2 separate regions of the Homo sapiens genome follow, and region 2 is linked to region 1. Evidence: fine-mapped expression QTL. Tissue or cell type: whole blood. Region 1 holds a variant in brackets; the other region holds the start of a gene. All regions are shown on one strand. Distances are from middle to middle.

Evidence for each region. PIP is the estimated chance that this variant, and not a neighbour inherited with it, causes the effect.
Region 2: LRP6 starts here. The variant in region 1 is fine-mapped to the expression of LRP6 in whole blood (INTERVAL, PIP above 0.99).

What each region holds. Positions count from the first base shown.
Region 1 is chr12:12,161,852-12,164,351 of GRCh38, reverse strand. LRP6 (LDL receptor related protein 6) reads left to right here. Exons shown (of 23, transcript NM_002336.3): 9 at 1-79; 10 at 1,933-2,159. Among named protein-coding and RNA genes, the nearest start is that of MIR1244-4, 51 kb to the right of the region's middle. The variant G/A (reference allele first, on the strand shown) is at 1,558.
Region 2 is chr12:12,265,495-12,268,233 of GRCh38, reverse strand. LRP6 (LDL receptor related protein 6) reads left to right here and starts at 1,190. Exons shown (of 23, transcript NM_002336.3): 1 at 1,190-1,553. The coding sequence starts at 1,499. RefSeq lists enhancers at 960-1,009, 547-1,183 and a silencer at 1,190-1,499.

The sequences.
Region 1 (2,500 bases):
CACTGGTGTCAAAGAAGCTTCTGCTTTGGATTTTGATGTGACAGACAACCGAATTTATTGGACTGATATATCACTCAAGGTTAGCAAAAGAATTGGAATATTAAAGCTAGGGACTAAAAGGGAGAACTTCTAGAATTTCTGAATCTTCATGCTGTGACCCACCTCCCTCATTGTTTGACAGGCAGAGTTCAACAAAAACCCTCAAGTTTTTTTTTTTTTTTTTAAACGGTGTCTTGCTCTGTCACCCAGGCTGGAGTGCAGTGGTGCAGTCTCGGCTCACTGCAACCCCTGCCTCCCAGGTTCAAGCGATTCTCCTGCTTCAGCCTCCCGAGCAGCTAGGACTACAGGTGCGTGCCACGACGCCCAGCTAATTTTTGTATTTTTAGTAGTGACGGGGTTTCACCATGTTGGCCAGGCCGCTCGAACTCTTGACCTCGTGATCCGCCCGCTTCGTCCTCCCAAAGTGCTGGGATTACAGGCGTGAGCCACCGCGCCCAGCCAAAACCCTTAAGTTTTTAAGTGAAGGGAAAGGCCCATTCAGTATTTTATTAGATGCTTTTTAATACAGATACTTTGCCAGAGTGTTTTAAATCTGCAAGCCATAGTCTTCCTCTACTTTCTTCCATTTGAAAATGATGAATGACATTTTCTGCAATTAGCTGAGTAAGGAAATGTGTGCTTCACGTAAAATGGCTGTTGATTTACTTTAAAAAAAAATTCGTGATTTACTTTAAACAAAATTTTAGGGCCTGACTGAGGCGGAAAAGGCCAACAATGAGTTATTCTTTATTTTCTTCTTCCTAGAATAGTTACTGAAAAGAATACCAGGATAGCCAGAGAGGAAGCTCCCAACCTATAAATCTGAAGAATAATCTTTTCTTCTTCCAGATTGTTTTGGGCTTGTTTCAGATAACTCATGTAAACTTTTTTGTAATATGCGAAAACATGGGGTGTTGGAGTCAGAGTTGGATTCTAATGGTGTTCAGTTAAATTTATTAAGTGAATAAATGAAATAAATAAATTTTGGTTTGCATTGGGTGATGTTCTAAATTTCCTCATCTTGAAAATGGGGGGTGGCTGGGTGCGGTGACTCAGGCCTGTAAATCCCAGCACTTTGGGAGGCTGAGGCACATGGATCACCTGAGGTCACGAGTTTGAGAACAGCCTGGCCAACATGACAAAACCCCGTCTCTACTAAAAATACAAAAATTAGCTGGTCATGGTGGCGCATACCTGTAATCCCAGCTACTCGGGAAACTGAGGCACGAGAATCACTTGAACCTGGGAGGCAGAAGTTGCAGTGAGCCGAGATCATGCCACTGCACTCCAGCCTGGGTGACAGAGTGAGACTCTGTCTCAAAAACATAAAATAGGGGTGATGCCATACTTGCAGGACTGTTGTATTAAGTGACAAAATCTACGGACAAAACGTACTTAGGATAATACTTGATAAGATGTATCTATTATTAGTTTGAATTATGATTTTTAAAAGTGTTATGGGACTCAGTGCTATAATGGTAGTATAATGGTTACATTCATTTATATGGTAGGCATGAT[G/A]ACTTGCCATAATCTTAAGCACCTTTAGAAAATTGACCACTAATTAAGATCTGTAGCATTGTGGTCACAGCTTTTCCACTTGATTACTGATAAATTTTAAAAGTAAAGTCATTCTGCTGTTAGTAGAATAAATTTTTGGTGCATTAGAGTTTTAAAATTTCTCCCCTGAATTGGCAGTAAAACTTGAAGTTGCATTTATTAGAGATTGACATCAAATTTTTCTGTGCTTGCAAGTTATGTGAATTTTAATAGGAAATAGTATGCCTCTTGGCACTTCTGGATCCTCTTGCCCCTGACAAAAACCAAACCAAACCTTCTTTCTGGATAGGGTTTAGACTTATGCCATATGACTTAGTTGTTAATGTTCTTTTGCAGACCATCAGCAGAGCCTTTATGAATGGCAGTGCACTGGAACATGTGGTAGAATTCGGCTTAGATTATCCAGAAGGCATGGCAGTAGACTGGCTTGGGAAGAACTTGTACTGGGCAGACACAGGAACGAATCGAATTGAGGTGTCAAAGTTGGATGGGCAGCACCGACAAGTTTTGGTGTGGAAAGACCTAGATAGTCCCAGAGCTCTCGCGTTGGACCCTGCCGAAGGGTAAACAGCTTTACATGTGCATTCTTTGCAACTGCAGTGTACATTTCGGGGAACATGGCATAGTTACAGATGATATTCTTAATGTTTTAAATAATACGTATTAGGAATCTGAGAACTAAATGATAGATGAACTTTTAAAAACACTATTGATATTTTGCTGATTTGAATGAATAATTATTAGCTAATTTTACTCTTGTCGTAATTAACTTTAGGTGAAGAAAGAGGGGAATGGGTTAATAAATGTTACTGATGAGTATACTGATATGTTAAGTATATATACCAAGAGGTATTATCCATCTGTAGTTGCTTGCACTCCTTCCCAGTTATACTAGATTCCAAGC
Region 2 (2,739 bases), 100 kb before region 1:
GGCCCTGGGTAAGTCATTAACCTCTCAGGTTCTCATTTTGCTCCTCTGTGCAATAAAGAATAAGTAACAAAACCTGCCTTTCCCCAGGGTAGTTTTGAGTGTCAAATATGATAACTTGTGTTCAAGCACTAGTGAACTCCAATGTCACTGAGGTACTTGTTAACATTGTGGTAGCAGCTCCACTTTCTTGCCCATCTGCCTCCAGGTAAGGGCGTGTGACAGCTGGGCAGGATGCATCTGATGGCTCCATTAGGGTTAACTGTTGGAGCGCCTCTGCCCAGACGAAAGCCTGGCAGGTGATTTCAGGGGGCGTCTGGGCCATTACTCCTGAATGCCCAATGCACTGGGAGTAGCAGAGGCTGTGCACAGTCTGAGATTCTAGGGAATCTTTTCCTTCTCAAGCTGAGAATTGATAATCGAAGCATGCCAAACATTCGTTATTATATGCAACTTGTAAAATCCTAAATAGTCTTGTCCAATTGTCCCTTTGCTCTTAGGTTTTGAGGCATTTATCTTGGAATTTTATCTGCCAGTTTAGAAATCTTTAGCTGGTCGGGCTTAATTCTGGGGGCAGTTTGTATTTCTGGGAAGGCGGGAGAAAAATGACAATCTCAGTTTTGAATTGGCGTTTTAATATCGTTCACCAGATCCACGCTGAAAGCCGGTGTAAACAGCGTTCAAAAATTCCGCCCTCCCAAAAAAAGGATGCTGAAACCGATTTCCAACCCCGAAGACGGAGCTCATCACCCCGCAACGGGATCCGCCGTGGCTCCCCGCGCGTGCACCGCGGCTGGGCAGTCTCAGGTGGCTGGGGGCGCGAGACCGGAGCCCCACCTGGCCCTGCCGGCGGCGGCCGCACAAAGAGCGGGGCAGACGGCTGCCCGGCCGAGCCGCAGAAAGTAGTCCCGACCACGCCGGCTCCAATGTTGTTCAACGCCGCCTCACGCCCTCCGCGGGGAGGGCCGAAGCGGCCGGTCCGGGAAAGAATCCCGCTGGAATGCGCCACCGGGAGGAGGCTTTCCCTCCCAGTTCGCCTCTGCTAGCCCAGAACCTCTCCCAGGGTCTCAGGCAGAGGCTGTGCGTGCGGTTGCCGACTCCCTTCCCTGGCCGTACAGGAGGCAGTACCGGGAGAAGGGGCTCGTTGCGCGCAGGGACACGGTCGCGGCGACCCTAGGAGGCGGTGCCGACCGTATCCCTGCGCCGCTGCGCGAGGCAGAGGCTGAATGAGGAGCTGCGCGGGGGAAGCGGGGCGCCGGGGGAGGAGGCGGCGGGATGGAAGCAGACGCTGGCGTCGCGCGAGCCCGGGGCCGAGCGGCGCGGTAGAGAGGGCGGCGGCGGCGCGCGCGGAACCTTGACGTGCCCCTTTCTTTCTTCTCTCGCTGGGAAGCTGGGAAGTATGAGCGTGCAGCCCTGCCGCTGCGGCGGCCGCCCCGGCTCCTCGCCTCCCCCACTTCTGGCCACCCCTCGCCGGTGAGAGAAGAGAACGCGAGAAGGGAAGATGGGGGCCGTCCTGAGGAGCCTCCTGGCCTGCAGCTTCTGTGTGCTCCTGAGAGGTGGGAAGAGTGGGGGCACTGGAAAGTTGGTGGGGTTCGGGGGGAGGTGGCCTTGTTGTATGTGTCTAGGGGGAGGGGAGGGACGGAGGAAGGGAGAAGGGGAGAGGAGCGGGGAGAGGCCTGGTCGTGGGGAGGGGGAGAGAAAGGGGCCCGGGAGCAGGGGCTGCGTGCACCGCCCGGCCACAATGCGGACCTGGCCTGGCTTCCCAGACCTTCCCCGGACACATCGGAGCTTCGATCCCGGCTGCTGGTCTTAGGGAACCCTTGGCACCCCATGCTGTCGGGATGACTGAGTGTCTGTGTGCCTCTCTCTGCCTGGGGTCTTCCAGGGAAAAGGGTCTTTGTACGTATTTTGGCTTTTAAAATGTTTGAGTCCGAGATGCTTTAAGGTTGGCCTTATCCATCGAAGCCCCGCCACCCACTCCCCACCCCGTTTCGGTGTTTCTTAGGTGAACTTTTAAAGCCCTCTTGCTATTTTTTCCAGGCCTTGTTACAGGTAATGATTGGCTTCCGTTTGGGATATAATGACCCTGGGTGAGAGCGCAGTTGGAAAGTGACTCCGGGGTTATAGGTCGAGCGTTTCAGCATTGGGAGCCTTCTGAGCTTCAGCCCATAATAAAATAAAACATTGCCCTTGTAACCTCTGGTATTCACGGCTTGCCCCTATTTTCGGAGTATGCAAGTGTACAGTTGGCACTAAGTAGGGAAATTCATCCTCGTGTGAAGAGGAGCCGGTCCTGGGACCAAAATGATAATTTGCTCTGCACCCCTGGGGACTGCTTGGCACTTTGGTAAATTGCATAGGCTGTTCGAGATAATTTGCTCTGGGAATCGCTTGAATTCGATGGCACTATGATGTTTTGAATTGGACTGCAAAGCTGACACATGCTCTGTGACTTTTGTGACAGTTCACAAAGATTTTTGACTGGCCCGTCGGCAGCTCTTCTCAAACTATTTAGTGTTGAACTTGAGATGGCTGTGATGGCTGTGGAGCATTTACCAGCAGAGGAATTTAAGTACTGCTCGATACGGTGGCTTGTAGTTTTGGTTTGGTAAAGTTCTTACTGGCGTTCATAGTAAGTTCTTTTCAGGCATGTGACCGCTGGTCGCTGGAGATTTTTAGGTGTTAACAAGCTAAACTTTTGTTAAGTTCTCCAAACTAATTTAAGTTTACAGAACACTAATA